3 linked regions of the Homo sapiens genome follow. The protein of the gene in region 1 binds, or shares a complex with, the protein of each later gene. Each region holds a gene or a part of one and is shown on either strand. Other genes may lie near its edges.

The links.
Region 2: the proteins of THOC6 (region 1) and THOC1 are in contact, whole or in part, in a cryo-EM structure (PDB 7APK), measured with the Homo sapiens proteins. Residues at the interface, in NP_001334633.1 of Homo sapiens: Leu57, Ser58, Ser59, Glu60, Pro312, Glu313, Lys315, Thr330, Asn331, Gly333, Tyr334, Ala336; in NP_005122.2 of Homo sapiens: Ser227, Pro229, Ile230, Asp231, Tyr232, Leu234, Arg236, Val270, Ser273, Tyr274, Asp309, Leu312.
Region 3: the proteins of THOC6 (region 1) and THOC5 are in contact, whole or in part, in a cryo-EM structure (PDB 7APK), measured with the Homo sapiens proteins. Residues at the interface, in NP_001334633.1 of Homo sapiens: Val5, Pro6, Ala8, Val9, Pro10, Leu11, Gly12, Gln13, Val16, Phe17, Leu20, Gln21, Leu23, His24, Met25, Thr26, Phe28, Tyr45, Tyr80, Asp94, Glu125, Val126, Pro127, Glu128, Asn130, Gly146, Tyr170, His172, Glu188, Trp222; in NP_001002877.1 of Homo sapiens: Pro406, Gly407, Asp538, Ile539, Val540, Asp541, Ala542, Gly543, Leu544, Ser575, Ile576, Ser593, Asp596, Arg599, Glu602, Gly603, Asn606, Val607, Tyr609, Arg660, Phe662, Arg663, Gly664, Pro665, Ser666, Arg667.

What each region holds. Positions count from the first base shown.
Region 1 is NC_000016.10:3,019,351-3,027,105, reverse strand, and holds the start of THOC6 (THO complex subunit 6), read right to left. Parts: upstream 3,072-7,755; 5' UTR 2,780-3,071; coding exon 2,741-2,779; intron 1,399-2,740; coding exon 1,283-1,398; intron 1,183-1,282; coding exon 1,118-1,182; intron 1,044-1,117; coding exon 940-1,043; intron 856-939; coding exon 818-855; intron 742-817; coding exon 693-741; intron 591-692; coding exon 519-590; intron 428-518; coding exon 325-427; intron 240-324; coding exon 190-239; intron 96-189; coding exon 33-95; intron 1-32. Other genes in the region: HCFC1R1 (host cell factor C1 regulator 1), read left to right, coding at 3,165-3,259, 3,576-3,632, 3,745-3,873, 4,108-4,243; TNFRSF12A (tumor necrosis factor receptor superfamily member 12A precursor), read right to left, coding at 5,280-5,335, 5,417-5,551, 5,787-5,891, 6,615-6,708. UniProt on the Homo sapiens protein: Component of the THO subcomplex of the TREX complex which is thought to couple mRNA transcription, processing and nuclear export, and which specifically associates with spliced mRNA and not with unspliced pre-mRNA.
Region 2 is NC_000018.10:216,048-223,047, forward strand, and holds part of THOC1 (THO complex subunit 1), read right to left. Parts: intron 2,923-7,000; coding exon 2,839-2,922; intron 587-2,838; coding exon 439-586; intron 1-438. UniProt on the Homo sapiens protein: Component of the THO subcomplex of the TREX complex which is thought to couple mRNA transcription, processing and nuclear export, and which specifically associates with spliced mRNA and not with unspliced pre-mRNA.
Region 3 is NC_000022.11:29,515,758-29,522,757, reverse strand, and holds part of THOC5 (THO complex subunit 5), read left to right. Parts: intron 1-1,658; coding exon 1,659-1,760; intron 1,761-2,653; coding exon 2,654-2,750; intron 2,751-3,637; coding exon 3,638-3,752; intron 3,753-5,391; coding exon 5,392-5,495; intron 5,496-5,641; coding exon 5,642-5,729; intron 5,730-7,000. UniProt on the Homo sapiens protein: Component of the THO subcomplex of the TREX complex which is thought to couple mRNA transcription, processing and nuclear export, and which specifically associates with spliced mRNA and not with unspliced pre-mRNA.

The sequences.
Region 1 (7,755 bases):
TGCCATCCCATCCCACAGTCTGCCCAGCTCACCATCCAGTCGGAATCAGTTGCCAAACATCCAATCCAGCGCCCATTGTGGGGCCTCGAGCACTCCTGGGATGGGGAGGGGAGGAGGGAAAGAGGTGAAGACCTGGAGAATTCAAGGAGTTGGGGGAGAAGAGGACAATGGCCACGGTCACACCCTCACCTCGTGCTTATAGACCTCGATCGTCTGGACCTCCTTGGCTGTGCGCAGGTCTGCGGGGAAAGAACTGTGAGTGGTGCCCCACTTGCCTCAGCCTCCTTCACTGCCATCTTGCCCTCCAACCAGCCACCTGCTTACCCCAAAGTCGAACAGCTCCATCCTCGCCACCTGACAGCACCTCTGGGCTCCTTTCCCGCAGTGCCAGGCAGTGGATGTAGTCTGTGTGGCCCCGGAGGACCCTCTGCATGTAGAGGGGCGATGTCAGGAGGAGACCTAGGAAGAGTGCCTCTCCCTGACCTAGACCTGCTCTAGGGCTCCAGGACCCTGCTCACCGTGAAAGTCCCAGTTTCAAGGTCCATAGTGTGCAACTGACAGTCTCCCCCAGCCAGGATGAGGGAATTCTCCTGTGGAGGAGCAGGATGAGGCAGAAAGTCAATGTCAAATCAGGATAGGCAGAGGGTGAAGGATCAAAGTTTGGACCAAGAACAGTCACATGGGGCTCAGACCTTGGGGACCAGCAGCAAAGCGTTGATCTCAGGCACTTCCAGGCTGGTCCTGGGGAAGGAAAGGCAAGGTCAGTGAGGAAGTGGCTTCACCCTGATGCACCCTCTATCCACGTGGCCCTGCTCACCTGTATGGAGGCTGACGACGCCACAGCTCCTTACAGCCCTTCAAAAGAGAAAATACCAGGTGACCTCAAAGGCTCTCTCTGGGTCCAGGCACCCCAGCCCTTTCCCAAGCTCGACTCCTTACCTTCTTGAGCATCTCCGCCCAAAGCCAGGCCTTCACCTCCCCATCCCCAGCACTAAGCAGATGTCGATCGGTGGAAACCATGCTATAGACGGGCCCATCATGGGCTAAAGAGAAATGCAGAACTGAGTGAGCCAATCCCACCCAAAGTCCTGAAGCCAGACTCCACAGGTATACCCACCTTGGAAAGTCACCACCGGCTTCTTACTTTCCTCTTTGGCTTCTGAGCTCAAAGCAGAGGACAAGCTGCAGGGACAGCGGAGGGGACCCAGGAGTCAGAAACGGGGGCATCCGTCCCATGAGGGCCAAGTGCCAGGGCTAATGGGTGGACAGCGGCAGAGGGTACCTGAAGATGGCAATCTGCCCGTAATTGTTGCCAGCCGCCAGAAACTTCCCACATGGTGAGACGCTCTGGGAGAAGATGGTCATATGGAGCCGCTGCAAGGCCTGGAACACCTCTGTCTGCAGGGAAAGACTGGATGAGGCCTGCCTGGGACGTATGAAACCTCCCATCCACAGATTCCTCCCTGCTTCCCCCAAAACCTGCCAGGCCTCCCACTGTCCTGACTTCTCAGCCTTCTTTTGAGGCGGCCCCGCCCCAAGCCAGCACCTGCCCATGCAGTCCCATGGGTGGCTCCAAGAAGACACTGAAGAAGGGGAGAGTTGAGGTGATGCCTCAGGGACCTCTGAGCAAGCACCCAGGCCTCTCCTGCCAGCTTCCTCAACTGACAAATGGAGCTCACAGAAGATTCCATCACAATTAGATGAGCTAGTGTATAGACAAGAGCTTTACATGGGGCTGTCACTCAGTGCTTAAGCCGGGTGTGGTGGTTCATGCCTGTAATCCAGCGCTCTGGGAGGCCAGGAGTTTGAGAGCAGCCTGGGCAACATAGTGAGACTCTGTCTCAAAAAAAATTTAAAAATGTGGGGCCGGGCGCAGTGGCTCACGCCTGTAATCCCAGCACTTTGGCAGGCCAAGGCAGGTGGACCACCTGAGGTCAGGAGTTCAAGACCAGCCTGACCAACATGGAGAAACCCTGTCTCTGCTAAAAATGCAAAATTAGCTGGGAGTGGTGGCGCATGCCTGTAATCTCAGCTACTCAGGAGGCTGAGGCAGGAGAATTGCTTGAATCTGGGAGGCGGAGGTTGCGGTGAACCCAGATGGAGCCACTGCACTCCAGCTTGGGCAACAAGAGTGAAATTCCATCTCAAAAAAAAAAAAAAAAAAAAAATTTGGCCGGGCGTGGTGGCTCACACCTGTAATCCTAGCACTTTGAGAAGCCAAGGCAGGCAGATTACCTGAGGTCAGGAGTTCGAGACCAGCCTGGTCAACATGGTGAAACCCTGTCTCTACTAAAAACACGAAAATTAGCTGGGCATGGTGGCACACGCCTATAGTCCCAGCTACTTGGAGGGCTGAGGCAGGAGAATCGCTTGAACCTGGGAGGCGGAGGTTGCAGTGAGCTGAGATCGCGCCACTGCACTCTAGCCTAGGTGACAGAGTGAGACTCTGTCTCAAAAAAAAAAAAAAAGTGCTTTGCAAGAACTAGAAAATTAAAAAAAAAAAAAAAGTACCTCTACTACCCCAACATAGAAAAACGTACTGATTTATAATTCCTACTCTCTGACTTGCGTTAAGCCCCTGAAGCACTTCTGGGTTACTATCCCGCCCCCCTGGTCAGAGTCTGAGTCCCACAAATAGCCCAGGCAAAACAGGGCTCAGGGCACGATTCCCTGCCCGCCCCGTCCCAGCCATGCGTGAACTACAAACCCCAGAAGGCAACGCGCACCACGTCCGTCTCACCTGACCCAGAGGCACCGCGAGCGGCACAGCTCGCTCCATCTCCAGAACTACAAGTCCCAGAGTGCTCCGCGCGCGACGCAACCTCACGAGGCCTTACGTGCCTAGAGCGGTTCCTCTCCGTGGCGCCCTACCGCCTTCGGCGCGAAGGTGGCTGGTGCGTACCGTCCCGAACCCTAGGAGCCGAGGTGAGCGCCGCGAAGACCCCCGACATTAAGAAGTGGTGTCCACCGCAGCCCCCTTAAGCCGGATACCCTCCCCCACCCCGAGGAGCAAGCCTGCCTTCCGCCACGCGCCGCCCGTCTTCCGCGCCCGCGCAGAACCTCGCGGCTGTGCCCGCCTAAAGCCACGCCCATCCTCTCTTGGCCACGCCCTCAGAGACTCCTCCCCTGTCGCCCAGATCCCACCCGCAGGACCCCAAAACCCAATGATCCTGCAGCAGCCCTTGCAGCGAGGCCCCCAGGGAGGGGCCCAGCGCCTCCCGCGGGCCGCCTTGGGGGTGACTTGGGGCCTGGACGCCAGGTGCGTGTAGGGGACCAGGGTGGGCCTGACCAAGGGCCGCAGGAGCTTTGGCTGGGTGCTCAGGACTGGTCTGCAGGATGAATACGGGGTGGGGCGAATCGGCGGGGCTTAGGCGTGAGCTGAGATGGGACTGGGGCTGCGGCTGAGGGTCGAGACTTCCGAGGTACCCTGCTGGATGGTCCAGGAGAGCGGGGACCGGCACCAGCTGAGACAGGAATGGGCTTGGGGCTCCTGGCTGATGCTGCAGGCTTAGGCGGGCAGATCCTTGGGAAGGGGCCAAGAGGGTGGGGTGCACCAGGCTCTCTTTTTTTCCCAGCTCCCCTCTCCGAGGAGCTGTGCCCATGAGCACCAAGCGGCGCCTGGAGGAGGAGCAGTGAGTTTGGGGGCAGGGAGGGACTCCCAACAAGATCTCTGTCACCTCTGGTCCCCAACAGGCTGCCTCCTGTGTCAGTATCCCAGCCTGCCTCTCTGCCATCTCTCCCCAGGGAGCCTCTGCGCAAGCAGTTTCTGTCTGAGGAGAACATGGCCACCCACTTCTCTCAACTCAGCCTGCACAATGACCACCCCTACTGCAGCCCCCCCATGACCTTCTCCCCAGCCCTGCCCCCACTCAGGTAGGTTCCTCCACTGGCCAGGCCTTCTGCAGAATCACAGGCGGTCCTCACAGCTGACCTCAGGCCCTGCCTCATCGTGCCATTTTTAGCTCTAGCTGACCTCTGGGTTGTTTCCCATCTTGGCTCTTTGGAAAGTGCTGGGAACCCAGGAGCCCCTGGGGACCTGGACCTGGTGGGAGGTGCTCAGCTAGGCCAGCCTCAGCTCCATGCCCTGACAGTCATTTCCTCTTCTAGGAGCCCTTGCTCTGAGCTGCTTCTCTGGCGCTATCCTGGCAGCCTCATCCCTGAGGCCCTCCGTCTGCTGAGGCTGGGGGACACCCCCAGTCCCCCCTACCCTGCAACCCCAGCTGGGGACATAATGGAGCTCTGAGTGCTGGTGGACAGTGCCCCTCCCACCTTCCTTCTTCCCCACAACAGAAGAGACCAGCGACTCCCGCAAAGGGACAAGGTTCCTCCCTCTCCTGCAGAGTAGGCATCTGGGCACCAAGACCTTCCCTCAACAGAGGACACTGAGCCCAACGGAGTTCTGGGATGGGAGGGGTGGGAGCATGGGAAGGGAGGCATCCCACCCCCAAGAAGAACTGAATAAAGATTGCTGAGCAAAGGAAGGCTTCAGTCTGGAACCTGGGGCTTTTGGGGATGGTGGAGAGGGCAGAGGCGCGGGATGCTGGGGTTTCTCCTCAAGATCTTCCCTGGAAAACTGTTAGGGCCAGCCAGGTCCTTGCCGGCTGAGTTCCAGGCATTGAGAATGTGTGAGTCAGAGCCTCACCCCCGCCCCCGCGGCTGGCTGACTCACTCCCTCCCTCCAGCTCAGGGGAGTCAGTCGGGGATCACTGCCTCTCCAAACCATTTAAAGTTAAAGATTCTTTTATTAATAAATTCTCCCTCCCCTCCAAACTCTCCCCAAAATAAATATCTCCTCCCCGCTTTGGGGAGTTGGGGGGGTCTGTATCTTAGGGCCAGCCCTCCTAGTGGGCCAGCCCCCTAGTGTTAAAAATAGGTCCCTAACCCCCCAGGGTGACCCCCGTGGTGGAATTTCAGGACATCTGAGTGAGTGGGGCCTAGTGTCAAGTCTGCCCCCCAAGTCAGCCTGGCCCCCAGGGCCTCTAGGAAGGAGGGCACCCCCCTCCCCTGTGCAAATGCTGCAGTTCCTTAGTCAGTGTCAGCTGTTTTGTGTGAGCCAGCGTGAGGCTCCCTTTCTGTTCTGGAGCCAGAGGCAGGGCAACCAGACACCTTGGAAGGTTCCCCTGAACCCTGGGCCCAGGCCTCAGAGGTGATTCACCGCCCCCCACCCCCCTTGTGGTTGGAGGAGCTTGGCTCCCGCCGCGTCTGGGAGGCAGAGACTGGCTCTAGAATGGATGAATGAATGATGAGTGGGCGAGCCCCGGCTGGCAGGGGGCACATTGTCACTGGATCAGCGCCACAGCTGGGCAGCCCTCTCCGCCGGTCTCCTCTATGGGGGCTGCAAGATAAGAGGTGGGGTCGTCAGCAGCAGAGAAAAGGTCGAGTGCTGACAGGGCTGGGCAGGCCAGGGCACACTTACTGGTGAACTTCTCTCTCCTGCGGCATCGTCTCCAGACCAAAAAGCCAGAAAGCAGCCCCAGCACGAAGGTCAGGCTCAGAGCGCCCCCAAGGATGGGCCAAAGCAGCCGGAAGGGGGCAGGAGGTGCTGCAGCGCCTGGGGGCGGGACTCGGAGTCAGACCTCGCCCCTCTCCAGGCCAGCCCCGCCCCCTAAGACTGAGCCTTCTGCCTTCTCCCAAACGTGGCCTCCTCCCTGACCGGAGCCCCCTCCCAGCTCCCACCTCCTCCCGAATGATTTCCCAGATGCAAAGCTCTCGGCCCCGCTCTGCGCACCAGCCACCCTCCCTCCCAGTCTGGGGTCCGCTGGCCACTGGCCCTGCCCCCCACTCACAGCCCAGGCAGAAGTCGCTGTGCGGTCGCGCCCTGCAAGACGCGCAGTCCATGCACTTGTCCAGGTCCGCGCTCCAGGAGCTGCCGCGGGAGCAGGGGGCGGTGCCTGGGGAGGGGGCCTCGGGTCAGAGGCTGGGGGCGGGACTCGGCTATTCTGGGGTCTGAGGTCAGGGTCGGCCGGCTCGAATAACGTGAGTCACCGGCGCCCTCCCCGCGCATTCCTCACAGGTGACCGCACGGCCCGACCGGGACACGGCAGCTCCGGGAGGGAGGGCGTAGCGCGGGACGCTGGGGGTGGGGGGGGTCAGGTCCCCACAACCCCCCTGCCGCCGGCGGGTGACTCACTCCTGGGCACCGGGCCCGACCCCAGTCCCTCCCCCCGCATAGCTGGGCACTGAAGTCACCGGATGGAAGGGGGCACCCCACATGGTATAGAGGGCACAGACCCTAGTGCCTCTCGACGGCCTCCCCAACTCGTCGATCACTGGGGCTAGTTAGACCCTGTACGGACCAGGCTGGGGGCGTGCCCCTTCCTAGACTAAACATCCCGCCCTCACTCACTTTCTCTCTCCATTCGAAGTACTTCGGACTTGTGGAACTGAAGACCCCCCCCAACCCCAATTGGACGGTGGGAGAAACTGAGGCCCGGATTGTGAATGAAGCTTGGAGAGTGATGGAACTTCCCACAGCCGGGAGCGAGCTGTTTGAAGGCCACCTGACCCCAGATCCCCACATCCGCCTGTTCCCCCAGTTCGGCGCTGTTCTCCAGACACCCAGTCCGGCTCCCGAGCCCCGGCCCGGGGTTCCCCGACCCCGGAGTCCCGCGTACCTGGCGCTTGCTCCCCGGCCACGGAGCGCAGCAACGCCAGCCAGAGCCCCAGCACGAGGAGCCGCAGCAACCGGCGCAGCGAGCCCCGAGCCATAGTGCACGTCCTGCGCCCGCCGCTGTCTGCGCCCGCCGCCGGCCGGCAGGGACCCACGGCCGCCGCCCCGCCCCCGCCCCCGCCTTCCGGGGCGGAGCTCTCGCCTCCGCCCGCCTTGAGGTCCGCTTCGGGACGCCCCGCCCCGCGGCGCCCGCTCAGTTCAGTCATTCATTCAACAAAGTCCTGGCGCGGGAGCTGCCAGGACCCCGCAGGGACGCAGACCCCCTTCCTTGCCCAGCCGGTGATCTAGTCCAGCGTGCGTGGTGTGGGGAAATCAAAAATTAGACACGAGTGCTCGCTTCGGCAGCACATATAGAAATCAGACACGAACGGCCGGACGCGGTGGCTCACGCCTTTAATCCCATCAGTTTGGGAGTCTGAGGCAGGCGGATTACGAGGTCAGGAGTTCGAGAGCAGCCTGACCAACGTGGTGAAACGCCGTCTCTACTCGAAATACAAAAATTAGCCGGGCGTGGTGGCGCGCGCCTGCAATCCGAGCTACTCAGGAGGCTGAGGCAGGAGAATCTCTTGAACCCGGGAGGCAGAAGTTGCAGTGAGCCGAGATCGCGCCACTACACTCCAGCCTGGGCGACAGAGTGAGAGTCCGTCTCAAATAAATAAATAAATAAATAAATAAATAAATAAACAAACAAACAAACAATAAAAAGAAATCAGACACACGACCAATCCATGCAGAGATCACTGCAGCTTCCTTCCCCCCACCTCCCCTTGAGATTGCGTCTCACTCTTGCTCAGCCTGGAGTGCAGTGGTACGATCACGGCTCTCTGGGCTCAGGTGAGCCTCCCACCTCAGCCTCCCAAGTAGCTGGGACCACAGGCCCTGCCCCACCACGTCCGGCTAATTTTTGTATTTTTTGTAGAGACCAGGGTCTTACTATGTTGCCCAGGTTAGCCTGGCCACTACAGCTTTGTTAAGGGCCCGGGGGGTATAACAATTAAACCTGAGGTCAGGAGCTCGAGACCAGCCTGGCCAACTTGGTGAACCCCCGTCTTTACTAAAAATAAAAAAAAGAAAGAAGTTAGCCG
Region 2 (7,000 bases), on another chromosome or scaffold:
GGTTCAAGCAATTCCCTTGCCTCAGCCTCTTGAGTAGCTGGGACTACAGGCACGTGCCACCACACCTGGCTAATTTTTTATATTTTAGTAGAGACGGGGTTTCACCATATTGGCCAGGATGGTCTCAATCTCTTGACCTCATGATCCACCCGCCTCGGCCTCCCAAAGTGCTGGGATTACAGTCGTGAGCCACCGCACCCACAGCCCTGTTGAACTTTAAATTACATGCTGTACAGAAAATTATCAGTTACTTCTTTATCAACTCATGTATTTCCTGTAAATGTATATTCCAATGTGTTTTTCCCTCATTCTAAAACATGGGAGCTTGTGGATCACTGGTTTTTCACATGATTAAGTCAGTTTTTTGCTCACATAGTGACAGCAATTTTAAAGAAGATGTCAACTAAAGGGTATGAAAAGTTGATCTATGGTACTTACCGGTAATTCCTTGGCTAGCTTTATTACCATATTTTCAAGATATTCTGGTAAACTTTTAAACTGCTGGTTGGTTGGCTGGAAGAAGTGAGGGCTTCTCCGTGCTAATAGTCTCAGGGCTCTCCAACCATAATTTGAATTGTTCACAGCCCTATAAAAAGAGGTGTCAGGCTTGTAATTTATAGCTTTGTATTTCTGTATTCCCTTCTGCTCAGTTCTGCCATGTGTAATTCTGTATTTAAGGTAAATAGCTCAAAGTGCCATTCTTTGTATTTGAATCTTATTCCTAAAGAACTTTTCAGTATGTAGTCCACTGATAATAACAAACCAATAGATGCACATGTAACTAATCACAGGAACCAACAATGCCTGAAGAGGCAGGCTCATATGCAGCAAACACATTTTCAAAGTTTCCGTTCATTTTGTTTAATTTTAACAAGTCAACAAGTGTGTGCAGTACTGGCTGGATGCAGTACGTATACAACAGGAATCATCCATCTAGCTATTTGGAATCCATGAACTGTTCCCTAATGAAGTATAACAATGATCAGGGTGGTATACCATCAGGTGAGAAACAAACTGCAGAGAAATTCTAAAGATAATGCGTCAGAAATATGCAATGCTGCGGAAGAAACCAAACCACAAATTTATTCCATTTAAGAGTTTTGGATTGGAAGTCTCTTCCTCCCCTAAGAATAGCAATTTGGTTTATTTGGTCACCTCTTATAAATAAGCATATGTTACCTTTAGGATGTGCAGGTACCACTGAAGACTTAACAAAAACTACCCATAGACACTGGGGACTCTTCCCAAGTTAACACCTGCTGTGAGGCTTTGCCTAAACAGTTAAGAGCCTTCCTCTCTGACATATCTGTTTAGACAATTTGATTATTTTAGGCATTTTCAAAATTCACTGTCAATTATACACATCATTTTTCTTATTCTCCACAAAACCCTCTTTGGAGATAATAATTTGAACTATCACTTTAGGAATGAGTCCACCTAGTCTTATGTAACAGTGATAAATTAATATTCTTTCAATCGACAAACACTTTTGAGCCAGGCACTCAGTAGCTGTGGAGAGTACCTGAGGCACAGTAAGGCAGGCATTGCTAGTGATAAACACACAAGGTATAAGACAATTTCATAAGGATGAGGAAAACTTGAGAAATGAGAAAGTGGTAAGTGCCACCTTCTCATTTGGATAGTGGTAAGTGCCGTGAAATAAAAACCACGAGAATGCAAAAGAGGAGACCAGGGAGGGGAAGAGCTTCCCAGCCAGGGGGACTTTAAGCCACGGCAACCTTGGGGAAAAAGTGGTTCAAGCAAGTGAGACAGTAAAGTGTGAAGGTCCTGACAGGAAAGGGAAAGACAGGACCAAGAGGCCTGCTGTGGTTAAAGCAGAGGGGAGGCATGGCCACACAGGAGAGTATGAGCCAGACCAAGGAGGTCTTTTAGGCCCTGGGAAGGAGTTTGGAATAGGCACTCACTGGGAGATTTTAAGCAGATTAGACTTGGACAATTATTTTAAAGATCACTGGCTGATGCATGGAGCACTGACCACAACTAGAGAGATTAGTTAAGAGGTCACAGTAATTAACAACTCTGGTCACAGGGTCACACTAGTCACAAATACTGAGTGCTAACCACATGCCCTGTAGGGTTCAAAGTGCACTGTCTTATTTAATCCTCAGAATAACCCTGTGAAATGGGTACTGTTACTATTTAACAGATGAGGAAAGGGAACTGGCGGTTTAATAATTAAATTAGCCTTAGTTGCCTAGTAAGTAAGTGGTAGAGGGAATCGAACCTATGCATTCTGACCAGAGGCCTCTTGCCTTTAAACCACTACTCTTCAATTCCTATTTAAAGCCATGAGACTGCGGTGTCACCCAGAAGGTTCTAGATAAAGAGGCTAAGACCAATTCCTGATGTTACTCCAAAATTTGAGTTAGGCAGAGGATGAGGAGGCTGAAATGGAATGTGAGGTGGAGTGGGCAACGAGGGCAAAGGGCAAACAGAAGAACCATGGATTTGGATTCTCATGGACGCCAAGAGAAGAAAACATTAAGGGGAACAGGATAGGTTAACAGCTGCTGTGAGATACTGTGCTTTGAAGGGTAGAGAGAACAGAACTAATAGTTGGAGAGAAATGGGGATCAGGGGGAGTTTTTTTTTTCTTATATTTTGAAACAAGGGTGATTCCAAGTCATGCTTAGTTAACAGGAATAATCCTTGAAATCAGGATGTGTACTAACAAGAACTTGGAACATAAACTCACCTAAGAGAAAAAGCACTATTCTATCTACTGCCTCTCTTAAGAGGCTTTCTAGTATACACACAATTCCTAAGGAAGAAACAAATTGAAGAAAATTAAAAGGAGCTAATGAGGAGCATACTTACTTATATTCATTTTCCACCATATTTTCAGGGTCTGCCTGTTCAATGGCTTCTTCAAAGAATTCCTCCAAAGTGGGCATGTGTTCCCTGAGCGGTACAAAAATAACCAGTGAGGATGGCATATATTCTTAATAATAAATACTCATGAAGTGGTGGCAGGACAAGATTGTGGGCATGTGTTCCCTGAGCAGTACAAAAATAACCAGTGAGGATGGCATATACTCTTAATAATAAATACTCATAAAGTGGTGGCAGGACAAGATTGTGGGCATGTGTTCCCTGAGCGGTACAAAATAACCAGTGAGGATGGCATATACTCTTAATAATAAATACTCATAAAGTGGTGGCAGGACAAGATTGTGGGCATGTGTTCCCTGAGCGGTACAAAATAACCAGTGAGGATGGCATATACTCTTAATAATAAATACTCATAAAGTGGTGGCAGGACAAGATTGTGGGCATGTGTTCCCTGAGCGGTACAAAATAACCAGTGAGGATGGCATATACTCTTAATAATAAATACTCATAAAGTGGTGGCAGGACAAGATTGTGGGCATGTGTTCCCTGAGCGGTACAAAATAACCAGTGAGGATGGCATATACTCTTAATAATAAATACTCATAAAGTGGTGGCAGGACAAGATTCTAATGGCCCCATACTTTTAGTTACAGTTTTGATTACGTGGGAACTCCAGACTTTTAAGGAAGTAAAACCGTCAAAACTAAATTCAAAAAGGACAATAAATAAAGGGGATAGTCTAATACTAAATATTACATAGTATTTACTACATATAATATTATATACTTTAATTACACACTATAATATATAAATATGTTGCTATTCAAAGAGGGCAGCCAGGGTATTTTATAGCATTTGAATTTTACCAGCAAATAAACTTTTACATTAAGTCCCTATCCACGAATTATTTTTTCTTTAAACCAGAATTAAACCAAAACTAATAATCAGACCATAATACGATTTCAAGGGTTTAACCTTTAGCTCTTATTTAAATTGTTACCATGGTAGCATGGTTGATTTTTAAAATGCATCTTTCTTGAATTTGTTTTTAGAAATAAAATTTTGATACAGGGTCAAGCAAAGAAATGAGGTCTCAGGATCAGAAGACATCTTCTAGAGTAAAACTAGGAAAATGGGCTCTTTTAAGAAAACTATCCCAATATCCATTCATTTTCTAATGCTACAGATACTATATTCCATTTTATGAACATGCCCCAAGTTATCCATGTCCTACACAGAGATATTTGTCTTCCCACTCTTTGCTCTGACAATGTTAAATGAACATTCTTGCACCTGTCTCCTTGTAGATGAACTGATTTCTTTAGGCACTGGGCCTTCAAACTTCCACTGCAACCCACAATAAGAAATTCATTTTACACTGCAACCCAGTACACACATATATGCAAGTATATGTACAGATATATATAAGTAAAGCTAATGCTTCACAAAAGTATATTTCCTATTTCATTTAAAAAATGCTAGTTGAAATTACTAAATTGACTTTACAAACCACCAATGATTCTCAAACTTAGTTTTTAAAAACACTATTCTGATCAACACACCTACTAGTGGGGCACAGACATCTTTAACATTCAGATAGAGTGACTGTGCCATCAGACTCCTACCAGCAGCACTGGCAAATTATTTTTATCCATAATTCTTATAAAATCTGGGTATTTTTAAATTACTGAATCTCTTAGCTGGAAACTGCTTGCTGTAGTTTTTAACTGTACTTCCAGTTACTAGTGAAGTTCCCCGTCTTCTCAGAGGTTTATTAAGGTTTCTACTTCTGAATCTGACTATTCATTTGTACATTTTTCTACTGGGTTGATTCACTCTCACAGATTTGGCAGGAATCAATCATGTTAGAATTTTATCTATTTTTCCTGGTTTTTGTTTTTATTGATCTTCTCTTTTGATTTTGTTATCTTCTCTATTGTTTGTTGTCTATTTTACTGATTTCTAATCTTATTTTACTTTCTACTTCTATGAGTTTACTTTTCTTCTGAATGACTCTCAGTGTCAGACTCTTATTAGCTTGGTTTTTAGATTTCATTCTTTTTGAAAGTGTAAACACTTAAGGCTATACATTTCTCTTCTGTGTTCTACTGAGTTAGATCTCAAAAGTCTGAACATGTAGTGTTTTCATTATTATTTAGCTCTACATTTTCCAATTTCCATTATGACTTCTTTGATTCAAGGGTTATTTAGAAGTGTGTTTAAAGGAGTTGTAAGTATTTTTGCTTTTGCTATTCACACATAATTTACAAAAACTTGTGGTTTCTGTAAGACCAAGCCTGTTAATTATTTTGTTAAATTCTAAATGTATTACACTAAGTTTTTTCCACCAAATTTATTAAATTCTGAGAAAGGTCTGTCAAAATCCTACTAGATGGTAGGTTTTCTGGGTGGTGGTGGATGGTGAAAACTGACCCTGGGTCAACTTCTCATTCTAATTTTGTCAAATTTTTGAGAACACATTCTTAGAAAATAAAGTTTAAAATGTGTATATTTCTATTTTTTCCTTTTATCTTTATGCAATGATTGCCTTTATTTTTAATAATGCTTTCTGCTTTTAAGCCTTTTCTGCCTGATATCAATATAACTATGCCTTTTAAAAATTACGTCTTTTAAAAGTTCTTTCAGTTTCAACCTTTCCATATCTTTATTTTTAAGGTATATTTCTTATAAACATATAGATGGATCTTTTTTTTTTTTTTTTTTTTGAGACGGAGTCTCGCTCTGTCGCCCAGGCTGGAGTGCAGTGGTGCGATCTCGACTCACTGCAAGCTCCGCCTCCCAGGTTCACGCCATTCTCCTGCCTCAGCCTCCCAAGTAGCTGAGACTACAGGCGCCTGCCACCACACTTGGCTAATTTTTTGTATTTTTAGTAGAGACGGGGTTTCACCGTGTTAGCCACGATGGTCTCTATCTCCTGACCTCATGATCCGCCCGCCTTGGCCTCCCAAAGTGCTGGGATTACAGGTATGAGCCACCGCGCCTGGCCGATAGATCTTTAAAATATAACACCAATTTCTGTCTTTGAGCCAGAAAGTCCATTTCCATTTATATTTGAATTTAACCATACTGTTTTGTACTTTCTGTTGTGTTTTCTGTGCTTTTTTCCTCCTCTCCTACCTTCTAATTTACTTGCTTAAATTTTCTGTATTTACTTTTACCCCTCAATTTATTTAAAAATTACATATTCCATTTCTTTCACATACTTTACAAGCATGTTTGACTTAAACCATAACATTCTTTAATTCTGACCACCCCTTCTTGTCTTACATGTCACTTTTATCAAGTTTACCTTTTAAAATAACCCTAAATAATAATTATTACTATTTTATAACAGTGAATTCTTGATAAGATTTATTCAGATTTCTTCATGTTTACCAAAGTGTCTACACAGTAATCCTTTCTGCAATTTACTCCTTTCTGGGTTCAGTTTCCTTAAGACAGCTTTTTTACTGGGGACTGTTGATAATTTCTCATAGTTTTAGTCAATCACTCAACCACAACTGTTTAACTTGTTACAGAATTTTTTAGTTGAAATGTTGAAAAAGCAAGTAATACTTCTAGAAATGAGAAAATATAGTCATTGAATTTACAAAACGAGCAGGTTTAACAGCAGTCTGGACATAGGGAAAGTAAGAATTACTGGATTAATGATTAAGAAATCACCCAGAAAGCAATACAGAAGGAGCAAGAGTTGGAAACGATGAGTTAATGATAGTTGAGGAGGTCCAGCAAACATCTAATGGCAGAAAGAAATAATAGAGAATGTGAAAGACATTTTCAAGCACTCATCCCACTGTCTTCTGATTTTTGTTGTTCTTGAAGTCAACTGTTAGTTTAACTTTGCTCCTTTGTAGGTTGTCTGTTTTTTCTCTCTGGTGACTTTATTATCATGTACAGAGATATGGATTTATTTGGTTTATCCTCCTTAAGTATTATACTTCTTGAACCTATGAATTCATGCCTATTCTTAATAATTAACTCAATTATTGCCTCTTTCCCATTCTCTATTATTTCTTTCTGCCATCAGATGTTTGCTGGACCTCCTCAACTATCATTAAGTCATCGTTTCTAACTCTGCTCCTTCTGTATTGCTTTCTGGGTGATTTCTTAATCATTAATTAACCCA
Region 3 (7,000 bases), on another chromosome or scaffold:
GTGCTGGGATTACAGGCGTGAGCCACCACGCCCGGCCACTAAGGTTTTTTTAATCCCTTACTTTTTATCAAAATTTTATAACAAAGATTTGACTGGTTGAGAAGTTTTTTTGTTTTGGTGTTATATTTTTATGACTATAAATAGCCTTTCCTTTTATGTTCATCATTTTTACCAAGTTCAGTTGTCTTAGCCATATGTTGCAGATATAAATTTTGCCAAGAAGGTGATTCCTTCATCAGGTTTTGTCAATTAATAACCTTCATCGTGGGCAGTTTTAGTTCTGTTTTATTTATTTACTAATAGATTGAATCAATCTATTAGTAATAGTCCCTAAACACTTGCTAAAAGACTGAAAAGTTTTATTTTATTTTATTTTATTTTATTTTATTTATTTTTTTGAGACAGAGTCTCGCTCTGTCACCCAGGCTAGAGTGCAGTGGTGCAATCTTGGCTTATTGCCAGCTCCGTCTCCCGGGTTCACACCATTCTCCTGCCTCAGCCTCCCAAGTAGCTGGGACTATAGGCGCCCGCCACCATGCCCAGCTAATTTTTTTTTTTTTTTTGTATTTTTAGCAGAGACGGGGTTTCACCGTGTTAGCCAGGATGGTCTCGATCTCCTGACCTCATGATCCGCCCGTCTCGGCCTCTCAAAGTGCTGGGATTACAGGCGTGAGCCACTGTGCCTGGCCTGAAATGTTTTATTTGTTTGGTAGTCAGTTCTCCATTTGAGGTGGTGAAGGGGGCAAAGACCTTGGGGAACAGGGATACTCAGTGAGACACAGTAGGGAAGAGCTGGAAGCCTCCACTGTCCTAGCATGGAGTTCCTGAAGGCATGCTGGGGCCAAAACGCAGGACCGGCACGTGCTGCCCAAGTTGCTCCTGACGTTATCCATGGAAAGATGAAGGAGAACCCCCTTTGGTTCAGGGAAAGAATGGGCCTTGTCATCCTTTGTGATAAAATTACTACATTACCCTCCCACATTATCTCTTTTTTGCTTGTCACATTTAATGACAAACTGTGCCCGAACCATCCCAGGTGGGTGGCAGTGGCGTCACTATTTCTCTCCGCTTGTAGCTGTGGGTCTCCAGTGTATGTGATTGTATCTTTTTCTGGGAACATACAGGGGGCCTTTTCCTGTGATGAGCATAAGATTTGGTCAAAGTGAGATAGACATAGCACCAAAGCTATACACTTGTTCTCTCTGTAGCAGAAAGGAGTCTGTTCTGCTTTTATGAAAATTGAAATTATTTCTACTGATGGTGTCATGGGACTTTGCTCCCCTGAGGTAAGGCCTTAGGCACCATATAAATCTTGAAGGGATGAGTTTTTTAAAAATTAATGATTAAGAGTACTAGTCTGTTTGATCAGACAATATAAAGCCACCTCTAGCACTTACTAGCAGTGTGATCTTGAATAAGCCATATCTTTTAAAGCCTTGAGTTTTTCCTCTATAAAATGGAAATGATAATCCTCCCTCATAGGGTTGTAAGGATGCAATGACCTCAAGCATATAAACGGTCTGGCCCACAGAAAGCCTTCAATAAATGGTGGCATTGGTCATCAGTGAGACGTGGCATTACCATCCCCAAATGCCCAAGCCTATGTTGAAGAAAGATGTTGGCTGCATTCTCACTGCTTACTGTTTTTCCTTTTCTAGTGACTTGCTGTCTCCTGACTCAGTCCTGAGTTGCTTGTATCCTGGGGATCATGGAAAGAAAACTCCGAATCCAGCCAATCAGTATCAGTTTGATAAAGTTGGGTGAGTCAGCAGTTTCCTCCTCTCCGAGCTCTCTACTTCTGAGTTTCTCTGGTGGCTCAAGCTAAATGCTGGAGACCTGTTAGGGCCAGAGGTGACCCAGAGGATAGGAAAGACCACAGGGTAGAAGGAAATGTTTGTTCTTTCTTGCTTACAAGGCAAAGGGAGATCACAAAAAGGGTGGAAGGATCAAAACTCGGAAACATGCTGGGTGTGGTGGCTCACGCCTGTAATCCCAGCACTTTGGAAGGCCAAAGCAGGTGGATTCCTTGAGCTCAGGAGTTCGATACCAGCCTGGGCAACATGGCAAAACCCTGTCTCTACAAGAAATACAAAAATTAGCCAGGCATGGTGGTGGGCATTTGTAGTCCCAGCTACTGGGGAGGTTGAGGTGGGAGAATTGCATGAGCCCAGGAGGTTGAGGCTGCAGTGAGCCATGGTCATGTCGCTGTACTCCAGCCTGGGGGCAACAGAGCCAGACCCTGTCTCAAAACAAAAACAAAAAGAAAAACAAAAAAAACCCTCTGGAAGCATAATAATACGTGATACAATAAAAATGTTTGACATTTTAATTATCCGAGGATTAATTTTTAAAAGATTTTCTAAATTGGTAGACCAATAAAGACATTAGTACACTGCCTTTGTATTTGATATTTGCTTATAAGTTGAAGGCTGCAAGAAGAAAAGGAAAAAGAGGAAAGTGAATGTGAGAGAGATGAAATTCACAGTAGGGAACTGACAAAGTTGAAGGGCTTTGCCAGCAGCCTGGCTGTGAACATGGCCAAACCTGCAGGACTGGATGGTTTGTGGGGCATGGGAGGGTGGGAGGAGGCTGTATCCTGGGACCACAGCAGAAATGACTTACAGCACAATTTTATTTATCTTCTTTTCTGCAGCATCCTGACTTTGAGCGACTATGTACTTGAGCTAGGTCACCCCTATTTGTGGGTGCAGAAGCTGGGTGGCCTCCACTTCCCCAAAGAGCAGCCCCAGGTCTGTACACTGATCTCATCTAGTTGGCTGAGGAGCTTACCTCTTCTCTTCCTGTATAGACTCTAGAAAGGCCAGGCCAGGTGCGGTGGCTCATGCCTATAATCCTTGTACTTTGGGAGGCTGAGGCAGGTGGATCACCTGAGGTCAGGAGTTTGAGACCAGCCTGGCCAACATGATGAAACCCCATCTCTACTAAAAATACAAAAAATTAGCTGGGTGTGGTGGCACGTTCCTATAATCCCAGCTATTCAGGAGGCTGAGGCAGGAGAATCACTTGAACCAGGGAGGCAGAGGTTGCGGTGAGCTGAGATCATGCCACTGCACTCCAGCCTGGGCAACAAGAGCAAAACTCCGTCTCAAAAAAAAAAAAAAAGGCCTGTCATGGCCTTTGGAGTTTTGAACTGGCAGAATGTGTCCCCTCAGGGCTGTGACCTGTCTTCTATCCACTCAGGACACTAAAATGTCTTAGACTTACAAGAGTTTACGTACCTTTTGCATTTTCTCTGAGCCTAGTAGCCTTTTAGACCCAGGCAACTTGAGTCCTTGCTCTGGGACTCATGTCTGCAGGCTCTGCTGCCCTTGTTCTTGTGTGCAAGTACCAAATATGAGGCATGAGCAGAAATCCAGGGGGCCTGGCCCCTTAGCAGAAGCCTGCCTTTCCTCAGGAGTTGGACACAGCTTCTCAAGAACGCAGCATATTGTGTTGTTTCTGCCAGGACTCAGCGTCTGGCCTGTCATAGCAGATAAACCTTGCCATGTCTAAAGGGTACCCATCTTGGGGCATGGATAATCCAGGGTGCCGCAGACAGGCAGGTCCCAGGAGAGAGATGGTGCCCGGAGGAAGGGATGGGGGAGCACACGTGTATGTGTCTCATTGTCACTCACAGCAAACAGTGATTGCTGACCACTCGCTGAGCGCCAGCCACATGGAGACCACCATGAAACTTCTGAAGACCAGGGTGCAGTCCCGCCTGGCCCTCCACAAACAGTTTGCATCCCTAGGTAAGCTGATGATGGGGCAGTGGTTTAAGAGTCACTCAGACAACACACGGACAACAACAACTTAGCCTTTCACTCAAAACTTGAATCCTGATGACAAATACAAGACCTGGATTCCTGGCTTTACGGAGTGGGCATCTTGGCAGAGCCACTGGGGAGAGCTCCAGGCCTGTCCAGGCAGAGGACCGAGCTCCCCCTTAGAGCCATCAGTGCTGTCCTGCCTCACAGAGGAGGCCCAGAGCCATTGGGTGGCACAAGTTTGTGGACTGGTCGGGGCAGTTCATCCTAGGTCATGCATTGCAGATTTTGATGTGCATTCGACACATATTTAGTGAGATCCTGATTCATGCCAGGCACTGAGCATAGTGCTGGGGGAAGAACTGAGCACAGTGAACCCCTGCCCCTGGCTCTGTGGCTCACAGTCAGCTTTTTGAATATAGCTATCCAGGGAGCAACTCGCATATCCCTTCCCCAAGGCCTACTGACCTCGTGTTCCCCAGGGTGAGGCTGAGCCTATGTTTTCTTCTAAGCTCCCAAGTGATAATGATGAGCCACTGACTTAGGTGGTGGCATTTGGGGGCTTCTTTTAGTTTATTCACTCAGTAAGTGGTTGTCAAATGCTTACCATGTGGCAGGGGGATGGGGTCAAGATTTTTCTGACCTAAAAGAGTCTCTGGGACAGGCGCAGTGGCTCTTGCCTGTAATCACAGCACTTTGGGAGGCCAAGGCAGACAGATCACTTGAGGTCAGGAGTTCAAGACCAGCCTGCCAACATGGTGAAACTCCGTCTCTACTAAAAATACAAAAATTAGCTGGGCATGGTGGTGTGCACTTGTATTCCCAGCTACTCAGGAGGCTGAAGCAGGAGAATTGCTTGAACCTGAGAGGCGGAAGTTGCAGTGAGCTGAGATCGCATCACTGTATTCCAGCCTGGGCAACAAAGCGAGACTCCATCTCAAAATAAAAAGTAAAAAATAAAAAAGAGTCTCTGTCAGGAAAGGCATTGGGTTTCCAGGACACATCTGGAGACCACTCCCCACCAGTTCTTAGACTCCACATGGCTGCCGATCTCTCCAGAGCACTGATGTTTGTCCATCGGGCCGTGCTCCCCATCAGCACTGCTGAGTTTGTTTTGTCCCAAGGTAGGGAACTTGTCATTCTGGACAGTACTTACTGTGTTGGCATATTTGCTTATTTAAATGCCAGCAGGAATTTACCCTGGAGCAGTTATCTGGCTCTTCTCCCTGACACACAACACTTCAGTTGTTTCCTCCATCAAGGTCAGCTATGAAAACACAGGCCTCTATGCTATTTGATCTAATTAACAGTCACTGCTGCAGGGGCACCCTCCCTAGTTCTGACTGTAAGGGTTTTTCTTTGGCAGGCTATCATTTGCATTAAAGAGAAAGCACCATAAGTGCTGGCACTGGATCTGGCCACAAGCACATAGCACTGGGTGAAGGTCAGGTTGACATGCTTGCATTCCTGGCACGTGTTGACCTGGGTACTTCCTGAGTACCAGGTATACCAGGATAGCTGGCCGGGCCATCTGAGCCCTTCAGAGAGCCCCAGGAGGATGCTAGTTACCCATCTGTGGCACCTGATTTCTACCTGTGACGTCATCTGTCTTGTTCTCTTTTAGAACATGGCATTGTGCCAGTTACCAGTGATTGCCAGTACCTCTTCCCTGCCAAGGTTGTCTCTCGCCTGGTGAAATGGGTGACAGTTGCCCATGAGGATTACATGGTAGGTGAAGGAGTGACAAGTTACCCTTACTGTCCTGAGGATTGCAGGACCATGTCACCTTTCAGCTCCTGCCACCTCACTGGAAGAGCAGGGGGTTTAACCAGAGGAGCCAGCAGTTCACCTCTTGTCTGTGGTACCTCTTCTAGGAGCTGCACTTCACCAAAGACATTGTGGATGCGGGACTGGCTGGGGACACCAATCTCTACTACATGGCGCTCATCGAAAGGGGCACAGGTAATTGCTCTGCTGATTACAGGGGTTCTAGACAAAGGGCGCTGCCAAGAATCAAACACTCTCCGGGGCTGCCCAAAGCAGAAGATCCTGGAGTCCTGCAAGGACTTAACAGATAATAATGATCGTGAGAGCCTGTTCAGCAAGGACTCATTCTGCAACACAGTCACACACACGCTGTGTATCACTGAACCCTCACTGCAGTCCTAGGGGTGGTGCTTTCATTTCTATTTTACATGGGAGGAAATTCAGGCTTAGTTGCAAGCCCAGTCTGAGCGCTGAGCCTGAGCTCTTTGCTCCTTCCTTCACCGCTTTCTAGTACCGGACATCTCCTCCTTCTCCCTCTTCATAACAGGGCTGAGGTGTCACCCTCAGGTTGTAAAGGGCAGGGCCACAGGGCCTCGCTCCCTCTTCTGCAGTCCCTGCACTCACTTTAGAGGCATTGAAAGCTCTGATTCTTCATACCTCTTCTGGCATCTGACTCTGCCAGGGCTCCCTGCTGAAGTCCTGGGATGTTGTGTTTGGGCCGTTGTGCTGTTGTCCCACCCAAGCCGCAGCAAGCCTGGCACTGCCCGTGGGATCTGACACCCTCAAGACTTGGTGCTGAGCTGAGGAAGTTGTCTGTAGTTCTAAGACAGTTCCAGAACTGTAAGGAAAGGCTGAACTCTTTGGTATCAGAGTTTCTGTCCTCACTACCCCACTTTCTTCTCTTTCTATTCTTCATGTCTTTTAAAAAAAAAATTCTGAAGAAACTGAATATTTCAGATACAGTTGAGGCCTCCCTATCCCACTTTATTCCCTTTCTCCTAATAAGTGACCACTATTTGGATTTTATGCATTTGCTTTCCATCCTTTCCCCGCTACACCCTTTTTTTTTTTTTTTTCAGTAGAGATAAGGTCTTGCTTTGTCGCCCAGGCTGGAGTGCAGTGGCACGATCATAGCTCACTGCAATCTTGAACTCCTGGACTCAAGCAATCCTTCTTCCACCTTAGCTCCCTGAGTAGCTGCGACTACAGGTATGCTACCATGCTCAGCTAAGATTTTTTGTTTTTGTTTTTGTTTTTTTGTAGAGGCATGTTCTTACTATGTTGCCAAGCCTGGTCTCAAACTCCTGGCCTTTCTTCCAAAGTGCTGGGATTGTAGGCATCAGCCATCATGCCTGGCCTCTCCCCTTTCAAAATTTAATTTAACTTATTTTTTGAGACAGGGTCTTGCTCTGTTGCCTAGACTGGAGTACAGTGGCTCAGTCATGGCTCACTGCAGCCTCAACTGC